2 separate regions of the Homo sapiens genome follow, and region 1 is linked to region 2. The links come from fine-mapping of genetic effects on gene expression. A gene starts in region 2. The other region holds a variant in brackets. All regions are shown on one strand. Distances are from middle to middle.

Region 1 (5,372 bases), 430 kb before region 2:
AGGAAATCTTTCTCCACCCTGAAGTCATTTTCTTATAAAAGTTTTAAAATTTTGCCTTGCACATTTTGGTGATTGATCAGGAATTTATTTTTGTGTTTGGTGTGAATTATGAACTAATTTTATCTTTTCCATATGTATAACCAGTTGTCTCAATATCATTTATTGAGTCCATTTTTTTCCTTTACTGATTTGCAATGCTATCTCTGTATTATATCCAGTTCCCATATACGTGTGGGTCTAAGTGTCGACTCTATTCCGTTTCATAATTCTTTTTGTCCATATTTGCATCAATAACACTGTTTTAATTGCTGTAGCTTTAAAATTATTCTTGTTATTTCATAGGGCGTACTTTCATTACCTTTCTTAATTTGGCATTTCTTGGCTCTTTTCCGTACGAATTCTGGGAACAACTTAATCCCCACTCCTTTAAAAAAAAAAAAAAAGACACTTTGGCCTGGCATGGTGGCTCACACGTGTAATCCTAGCACTTTGGGAGGCTGAGGCGGGTGGATCACTTGAAGCCAGGAGTTCAAGGCCAGCCTGGACAACATGGCAAAACCCTGTCTCTACCAAAAATTAGCGGGCATGGTGGCACACGCCTGTAATTCCAGCTACTTGGGAGGCTGAGGCATGAGAATCAGCTTGAACCCAAGAGGTGGAGGTTGCAGTGAGTTGAGATCGTGCCACTGCACTCCAGCCTGGGCAACAGAACGAGACAGTTTTTTGTTTGTTTGTTTTAAAGACACTTTTAACCTTCCGCTATGGATTTTTGACCTACATTTTTCCTCTTGTATTTTATAAGAGTAGACACAGAGAGCACTTCAATAAAATTCAGCTCAATAACTTTATTAACCTGATCTCCTTTTCTTTGACTTTAAGCTGAAAGTGTTAATTTCTCACAACTTGTGCTCTATAGATTTGAAACCAAATCAATTAGCATCAGCTGTTTATGAGTAATGCAGGGTATTTTGGTCTTTTGCTAAATTCAGAAAGAAATGTTAAAGTGCTGATGGATTTGCACTAGCTGTATAGATCTTTGGTGGAGGAGGAAATGGGAAAATTATTAATTTCAGGTAAGAAGTCATTTTTGAAATGCAAGATTCATTTCTTTTTAAAATCACCACATAATAAAAACTTTAAGGGCTGCATTGGTGGGTTTTTAAAAAAAATTGTGAAGTGTTTTTAGTGTTATGTGCTGACAAATATTTTTGTAGTTGCTTTGACAAGCAATGAAACTACCAATTATCACTAATTCTGAGTCTTCCAATGAACCTCTGTGTCAAATTTTTAAATTTAATTATCCTATTTTTCTCCTAGAGAATAATATTGATATAATTTTGTGAACCATAGCAGACAGTTCCCATTGCTGAGAATAGAGCCTGGTGTGGGGATATTATGATTCTTGAATGGTTGAACAAGACATTTGCTTCTGAACATCTTAGTAAATTATCACTTCTGACAATGTCTGTAGTTTGAATTTTGATATTCTCTGCCAAGGTATTGAATACTCTAAATAATGTTGTTTATTCTATTATTTAAATCATTAGTATTATAGATCTAGCTTTAAACAGCTGCTGCACTCCAGTCCTTTTTCTTCACCTGCAGATATTGAGTCTGATAACTGTTTTGTATACATAGCCTTTCAGTAAATCTACTTATCAGTCATCAAATTAACTTAATTATAAGTTAAATGATGAGATGGACCAAGAGTGTTATTGAAATCTCATTTCCACACATTTCTTCTCTTCTTTTGTAGAAGGTAATGAAATGAACCTGTCAGTGTTCCTGTTTTTATGAAGTTTATTTCTCTTAGTACAGTGATTCTGATAGTGGGTTCTGCAGACCAGCAAATTAGCATTATCTGAGAACTTGTTAGAAAAGCAAATTTTCAGTTCCCACTTCAGGCTGACTAATTTAGAAACCCTGGGGTAGGGCTTAGCATTCTCTTTCAATAAATTCTCCAGGTGATTCTGATGTATGTTAAAGTTGAGAAGCATTCACTTAGTGTTTTGAGCTCTCCAATTTAGTTCCTTATAAATTGTTGAAGATATTTTTTCCAGATTTCTTTCCAAATATGTGCTCAACCTTGTTACTGATAGGTTTCAAGGTTATCGTCTTCTTCCCATTAATACCTTCATCTATATCCAATTTTCAAACTTTTAAGAAAGCATGGCTATTTTGCTGCAGTATGGTGAATTAGGTACTCTGACTGACCTTCCCA[G/A]ATAAACAATTTAAAATTCTAGATAATTTTTTTTTGGAGGGAGGACAGGGTCTTGCTCCGTCACACAGGCCGGAGTGCAGTAGTGTGAACATGGCTGACTGCAACCTCGACCTGTTGGGCTCAAGCGATCCTCCCACCTCAACCTCCCGAGTAGCTGGGGCCACAGGTGCACACCACCATGTCCAGCAAATTTTTTTATTTTTTGTGCAGATGGGGTCTTGCCTTGTTGCACAGACTGGTCTCGAACTCCTGGGCTCAAGCAGTTTTTCCACCTGGGCCTCTCGAAGTGCTGGGATTACAGGTGTGAGTGACTGTGCCTGGCAGATGAAATATTTTTTAAGTAAAAACCTTATGTGCATGGAGATAGCTGGCTGAAAAGTAAGGAATAATCAGGCCAAAAACTATGTGAAGGTGAAAACCCAGAGATATAAGCCAAGTACTGCTGCCTTGAGGACATTATTTGCAAATGACATTACTTGGAAAACCTAGTTAACTTGTGCTTGTGCCTCAAGAAGCTCAGAGAACGGAAGATAAAAGTAGTTTTCTGGTAGAACGTCCCACCTCTCCTGGTAAAGATGGTACCCCAAGGGTCTATACATCATAATAAATGAGAACTAGTAATAAACGTACCTTGTCTAAGGATCGGAAAGAAAAATTTCCTGCCTCAAACTTTGGTGGTGATGGGAAGGGTACAGAAATTCCCTGAGAAGTTTTACCCACAAGCTGACCTTCATGCAGGTTTGAATCCTGATTTTATATTACCTGGATGGTATGAAAATCTTAAGCCAGTAATTAAATATAAAAGTGGTACAAGAGTGACGATGCCTTAAAATGCCTAAGAATGCCTAAAAAGCAGCAAATACAAAGCTTCTTGGGAGAACCCATCTTGATCTTAGGATTTAGAAAATTCCTAAACATAAAGCTGTAAGAAATATGAACTCACATTCACAAAATGCAGAAAGAAATAAGATGCAATGAATGAGAGGAAGCAGAAACAATAAAGAGCAGAATCAGAACCTGCAAAGAGTTCACATATTGGAGTTAGCAGACACAGATTATAAGTACATATATTTAATATGCTTATAGAAAAAAAGAAATTTAAAATAGGAATGAGGAGCAAGTATACAAAAATGACCAGTGTACAAATTTAATAACAGATTAGACACAGCTAAAGAAAGATTTAGTAAAGTGGATCTGAAAAAATTGCAGTATAGAGGCAAGAAAATGAAAAGTAATAAAAGAGTTAAGAGAATACAGAGGGTAGAATAAGAAGGTTCAGTCTAGTCAGAATTCTGGGGCAGGGGAGCAGGGGCATGGAAAAGAATGAGGCAGAGGCAGTATTTGAAGAGATAATGACAGAGAACTGATGAAAAACAACCTACAAATTTAGGAAGCTAAAGAATCCCAGAAAGGATAAAAAGAAAAAAAATTCACACATAAACATTTTTTAAAGAAACTACATGATACCATAGAGAGGTCTTAAAAGCTGTCAGAGGCTGGGCATGGTGGCTCACGCCTGTAATCCCAGCACTTTGGGAGCCCGAGGAGGGTGGATCACCTGAGGTCAGGAGTTCAAGACCAGCCTCAACGTGGAGAAACCCTGTCTCTACTGAAAATACAAAATTAGCCGGGCGTGGTGGTGCATGCCTGTAATCCCAGCTACTCAGGAGGCTGAGGCAGGAGAATTGCTTGAACCTGGGAGGTGGAGGTTGCAGTGAGCCGAGATCGTGCCATTGCATGCCAGCCTGGGCAACAAGAGCAAAACTCCATCTCAAAAAAAAAAAAAAGCTGTCAGAGAAAAAAGATATTACCTTCAACAAGTATTTGGCTGTCAGCTGTTTTCCTGTCTATAATAATGAAAGCCATAAGACAGGGAGTAATATTTTCCATATGCTTAGAGAAAATAATTGTCAACCAAGAATTGTATATCTTGTGAAGAATGGGGGCAAAATTAGACACTTTAAAACAGACAAACACTCAATGTTGTAACCATCAAACCTTCCCTACTAGTGGAAATTCAGATCAATTTCCTGAAGGCTAAAAAAAAAAAAAAAAAGTGACCACTGATGTAAAGTCTGAGATTTAAGAAGGATTGAAGAGTAAAGAATAATGGTAAATCTGTGGATATATTGAAATAAATATTGGCTTTATAAAATGATGTATGCGGAGGTTTTAAAAATAGAACTAAATAGGCCAGGTGTGGTGGCTCACGCCTGTAATCCCAGCACTTTGGGAGGCTGAGGTGGGCGGATCACCTGAGGTTATGAGTTGGAGATCAGCCTGACCAACATGGAGAAACCTCGTCTCTACTAAAAATACAAAAAAAAAAAAAAAAAATTAGCCGGGTGTGGTGGCGCATGCCTGTAATCCCAGCTACTCAGGAGGCTGAGGTAGGAGAATTGCTTGAACCTGGGAGGCAGAGGTTGCAGTGAGCCGAAATCACGCCATTGCACTCCAGCCTGGGCAACAAGAGCAAAACTCCGTCTCAAAAAAAAAAAAAAGAACTAAATATATGATAACAACATCCAAATCAAAAGAGTGGTTAAAGTATTTTATGATCTTTATACTGTTGAAGAGAAAGGTAAAGCTATTCAATTAACTTTAGATTTTGATAGGTATGTGTATTAGTATTTTCAGAGTAACTACTAAAATAATATAAATATTAGGAATAATTTATAGCAGAAAAAACAATTTTTAAAAGGCAAGGAAGAAGTGAAAAACATAGAAAAGGTCAGATAAAGAGGAAACAATAAAATATAGAAATCAAATCAAATATATGGTAGACTAAATGCTTCATTCAGACAAAGAATGTCAGATTGGATTATTTAAAAGCAAGCAGGCCGGGTGCAGTGGCTCACGCCTGTAATCCGAGCACTTTGAGAGGCTGAGACGGGTGGATCACTTGAGATCAGGAGTTCGAGACCACCCTGGCCAACACGGCCAGCTGGCCATGGCCAGCTAATACAAAAATTAGCTGGGTGTGGTGGTGCACACCTGTAATCCCAGGTACTTGGGAAGGTGAGGCAGGAGAATCACTTGAACCCAGGAGGCGGAGATTGCCGTAAGCCAAGATCATGCCACCGTACTCCAGCCTGGGCAACAGGGTGAGACTCTGTTTCAAAAATAAATAAATAAATAAATAAAAGCAAGC
Region 2 (5,358 bases):
CCCCTGCAGCCACCTTGTGAGACTTTTGCTTCCTGTTGGACCTTCCCTCCAGGCCCATGGCTGCCCACCAAACACCCAAGCTCAGGTGTCATTCATACCCACAGGTAGATGTCTGCAAAGATATTCACAGCCACACAGCCCTGGGCCCAGCACCTGGGGACAGGATCACAGGCGGACTCAGACACAGCCCTCACACAGCTATGGACTTGAGGCTCACTCTCCTCCTTACAAGCACAATCAGGTCATGGCCATGAGCACTGATATTCATGCACAAAGACATCTGTGGGGCTTTCCCCACACTGTCATGAAGGCATGCGCGCGCACGTACACACACACACACACACTCACACACACGCACGCACGCACACACACACTCACATGCCCAGTCATGAACACAGTCAAGCCCAGCGTCACAGGCAGACACAGGCTCTGACCTTTACATGGGCAAAGATACTTCTAGACTTCTCTCTGTCTCTTACACATGTACATACACACATCACAGCACCAGCCACTTGCTCACACTCGTGTGCAGACACACACAGCACAACCTGTCGTGGGCATGGATCCCCCAACACGCCCACACGATTTCACATCCATAGTAGCCCAGTTGCAGGCACAAACACTTTTGCACACAGAGACACACTGGTGTATAGAAAACACCTCTTAGGGTCATAGACCCAGAACACACGCACACACACACACACACACACACACACACACACACACACACCTCTCTCCTTGGCTTAGACAAAGCAGCATTCCTGTCCCCCACCAAATTCCCAAACAAGCCATGTGTCTAGCATTATGTTAGGGCCAATGTCTTGACCTTCCAGGTTTCCCCAGCGTTTCTTCCTATTGGGCAATCCCTATCTAGATGGTCCCCAAGATACCATTTCACACCAGAATCTACACCAACTGGAAGAGTGCCCTCTTCTAGTTCATAGGGCCGGAGAGACTGGTCTCTCTTCCTCAGTCCCTGCCACCTATGGGCCGCCAAACCTTTCCTTCCTACCCTCCCCCAACCCACCAGAGTCTCTGCGAAAGCAAGGCGAAAAACGGCATGGCCTTGGCCCGGGAATGGGAAGAGGGTCAGGAATGGCCGGGTGAGGCTGGACTGGTGTTGGCAGCAGCCTTTCCCCAGACTGGCCGAACCTCCTTCCTGAAGTCCCTGGCTGCCCTGGCCACCCCATGGACTTCTTTATGTGCTGGAAGCCTCAGGTTAGCCCAGCCCCCCGGAAAAGTGTGGGTTGGGCAGAAGAAAGACTTCCCCTTGGCTGGCTGTCCTGGGAGCAACTCCTAGCACCCTCTAAACAGAGACCCTTGGCCATGTCCCCACCCTCTCTCCCAGGAGCCCCAAACACCCAGACACAAATGCTGCCATCCCCAAACAACTGGAAGACTCGGGGTGTGGCCCCCAAGTCTCGCTGTCTCTGCTCCTCCTACCCTGGACTCTGGGTTGGCGAAAGGCAGGGAGTCTGGGGACCTGCAGGCGGTACCGCACCGTGGTGGCACTTCTTTCTGACTTTCACCCCGGGGGCCACAGCCCACTTCTCACTCACAGATCCCAAATTCTTCCTCCTCACCTCCCCCCGCCCAGGCCAAGGCTCTCCTATGTCCAGGAGGGGAAGATTCTTTAATTAAAGTTTTCCGGAATGTAGGGGGCTGGAGACTGGGGAGAGGCGGAGTGTAATTTAGAGAACTGGTTTCAGTGTCTTCCCCTCTGGCCCCTGGGACCTGCGGAGGGTGGGAGAGCGGCGATGGGGCCGCTCGGAAAACAAGGGGACTCCTGGAGCTGGGGCTCCCAAAGCGATGTTTATTCCTCACCCAGGCCCCCCAGACACGCACAGCCCCCCCCAAGCACTGCTCCCGGCTTCCCAGTCTTATTTACTAAAATGTCTTTTGTATCCACATTTCTCAGGGACGGAATTCTCCCTTCCCTCTCCCTTTCTCCTCGGTCCTCGGTTTTCCAAAAGGAAGAAATGTGACATGGAGAATTGGATTTTTGGTCAAAGAACAACAAGCCTACCCCTCCCAGACAACACATTTTCAAGGAACCCCCCTTTTGCCAGGGTGGACAAGCAAGAAATGAATAAAATCCGAATTCAATGGCATCCCGGATCAGCAAATACCATATTCACTTCAGAGGCTCAAGATGAATCTAGAGCGGTGGGGAGAATCTGATGAAATCCCCCCACCCACTCCCCTGCCCCGGGAGGAGCCCTGAAGCCTTTGGGGTCTGAAATAGGAAGGCAAAGGGGGGTTATTATGGGGAATCTCTTGATGGAGGCGCCGGCAGAGGTGGGGTGGCAGTGAAGGAACAGGATGGTTTTGCCCATGAAGACCCCAAAATGGAGAAGAGGAGTGGCTGGGCCCCAGGGACAGTGCTGGATTTCCAGAAACCCAACTGCAAGCAAATGGGGGGTCTTCGGGGGCCTCTAGATTGGGACGGGCAGAGGGTTAGGATCTAAGAATAAGAAACCTTCTGAGATGGGAAAAGTCCTCCAGCCCCTGCAGCGGGGAGCAGGGAAAATGGTGATTATCAGAGGAGCCAGGAGTTGGATTCTGAAGGCGACACCAGCAGAAAATCCAGGAGGGGTGGGCGGGTGGGGGGCTGGAGGGAGGCGAGGAGAGGAGCCCCAGCCCTGCAGCGGCCCACCCCCAGCCGGCGCCCCCACCTTCCCCGGACGCGGCGGAGAAACCGGGCCGCGGGCAGACAAGAGGCGAGTCTTACCACCAAATTGGGTAGCCAGCGAGGACCCTGGTGCCACCGAGCAGGAGGCCGAGGAGCAGCCCGAGCAGGTGGGGCTCCATTAGAAGAGGCGCCGAGGAGGAAGTTTGCCCGCGACCATGAAGAGGGGGAGCGACGCCCCCAATAGTTGGAACAAAGTCCACTTGAGATTGGAAATGACTTTCGGGCTTGTCAGAAGCGCACCTCCACCCGCAGCCGCCCCCCTCCCGAGCCCAGCGCGGAGCAGCCGGGTTTGAGGATGTCAGCGAGCAGCCAATCAGCGCCCGCGGCCTAAGGTAAGAGATGAGTCTGTAGTTCAGCCTGTCAATCACGCGCCCCTCCCGCCCGGCCCACAACTCGGGCTCCGGGAAGGGCATCGCCCAGCAAACTTGGGCAAAGCCCGCGCCCCGGACGCCGCGGGGCTTCGGGGGGACGCGGTGGGCCGGACCCTCTGCTACCGCCGCGGTCCCCCGCTGGCCAGGGTTAGGGCGCGGGGGCTTTGACCCGGGCGTTCACATGGCGAGGGCTTGGCGTGGGCATGAACGGGTGGCTCCTTTGCTGGCGGGGACCGTGACCCGTTGGGACGTGGGCCCGCGAGGAATCGAGGGTAGAAAGCACAGGGATGTTTCCAGAAGCCCCGCTCGGGCAGGTCAGGATCAGAGGGTGGGGGAACGCACCCCCTCCCAGCTTCCAGCCTCCCGAGTCCGCCCGCTCTCTGGCCTCTCGTCCTGGCCGCGGGAGGTCACTTCCCGGGTGTCCGAGGAACGTGCGGAAAAGTCCGCGGAGGCTCGAAGGTCTGGCTGCGGGCGGCGCCGGGGGACGGAGCCGAGTGTCATTTGAGTCTTTTGTCAGGGATCAGATCGGTATCGGGACCTCCTGCTGCCTTTGCATTTCCTGCAACTGACACCAGCGGCCAGTCGCATTTCCTGCTCTCGGAGTCGGGTCACTTTCTCCTCCTTGAGGGGTTCAGGCCCGACCTCTGGCCCGGGTCGGAGGCGTGACCCACAGCCTCAGTGGGATTCTCGGTTGGACCATCAGGGACCGGTGAAACGCGCAGCTCTGGCCGAGGGCGGCCCAGGTCCTTGGAAGACCTTGCTGCCCTCCGGAGCGCCCCTCACTGCCCGACCGTCCCGCCTGAGGCCCCGGTTCTACTGATAGGGAGCTCCAGCCTGGGGTTTGGCGATAAAGGCCCTTGCCCTGTGCGGACACCAAATGCCTCCAGTTACCCACCCCTCCCCACAGGAAAGGAGTCCTTCCAGGCCCCCTTCGGGCTTGCTTCCTCTCCTCTCCCTCTCCAGAGCGAGGAATTAGGTCTCAGCCCTGGGTGGTATTGACATCATGGTCAGGTTTTGGGGACTCACGCCCGGTCACCTGGGTGCCTTTCCCTAGGCCCCCTCCCAGGCCACCTGAGGCACCAGGACTCTGCGCAGCCCCGGTCTGGGGTGAAGGAAGCACTGCCGGTGGGGAGCAGGGACCGCTGTGTAGGGAACTGTGGCAGAAAGGGCAGAGAATGAGCCGACCCGAGTCCCACAGAGGCCTGGAACGGCGGGCGTTCCACGAGGTGAGGGCCATGGCTGAAGGAAGTCTTACGCCAGGGGGCCAGACATTCCTGGCCTTTGATCTGAGCCCCCCGTACCCACAGCTCCAACCTGCTGCCCCTTCTGGTCGGCGAGCCCTCTCCGCACGCGGCTGCTGCCGGCACAGGGAGCGCGGGGAAATGGCCTCGGGGGCACCAAGGGTCGGGAGAGCCGCCTGGGCTTGTCATGGCTCCTGCTGCGTTCCCAGCCCATTGCTGGACTGGAGGGGGTGGGAGGGGAGGTTGAAAGAGAGGAAGGAAGGGGAGGAAAAGGAGAATCCGAGAGGAGGAGAGAGAGAGAGGGGCTCAGAGATGAGAGAGACGCTGAGACAGAAACCAAGAAAACTGTCGGGGGGAGGCTGAGCCACCGGTGTGAGGAAGAAAGGGGCAGGGGGGAGGCGGAGAGCACCAAGGAGCTGCAAGGCGAAGAAAAATCGTGAACCTGACCAGGAGTGGTGAACCTGGTGGGGGCTGCAGAGATGGGGATCCCTAGAGATGCTCCTCATGGCTGGGCTGATTCTGGGGTGCCCTGTTTCTGATTCACCTGGAAAGAGGGTTACCATTGCCATGAATGCAGAGCCTCAGGACCAAGGCTCTGGCAGTGGAGAGCTTTCCACATACCTCCCTCTTGGATGGAGGCCTGCTAGGTCCTACCTGGAGTCCTGTCCCACCCACAGGGCTCCCAGGTGGCTTTCTGATCAGAGCTGCCTGCTGGAGTCCTGCCCAAGGGCTCGGGAGTTCCAGAGCCCCATGACAGTGGTGCTGAGAGCTGGGGAGGGCTACCTTCCCTGGCCACTCAGACACCACTGTGGATGCAGTATGGTGGGGCGACAGGGCCTGGACTTGATGGCTTCTTGGGGTCATTACTGGGCCTCAAGACTCCACAGGTGCCAACCCTGTGAGGTGGGAGCAAAAGATCCGAGGCTGTCGGTGGGAGTGTGTGTTGGCTGAGATATGCCCAGCCAGCATCCTGGGTGCTGTGGGCAAGAACATCATTCCCTGAGGGGTCATGTGTACCTGAATGCCTCCTCCAGGCAGCCTGGAGAACTCAGAC

What was found.
Region 1: its variant is fine-mapped to the expression of WNT3 in ileum (GTEx, PIP 0.92).

What each region holds. Positions count from the first base shown.
Region 1 is chr17:46,383,855-46,389,226 of GRCh38, forward strand. It overlaps a transcript of LRRC37A2 not described here and the pseudogene NSFP1. Among named protein-coding and RNA genes, the nearest start is that of ARL17B, 25 kb to the left of the region's middle. The variant G/A (reference allele first, on the strand shown) is at 2,222.
Region 2 is chr17:46,815,787-46,821,144 of GRCh38, forward strand. It overlaps WNT3 (Wnt family member 3), which reads right to left and starts at 2,906. Exons shown (of 5, transcript NM_030753.5): 1 at 2,732-2,906. The coding sequence starts at 2,811. It also overlaps a transcript of LRRC37A2 not described here. RefSeq lists an enhancer at 3,961-4,548.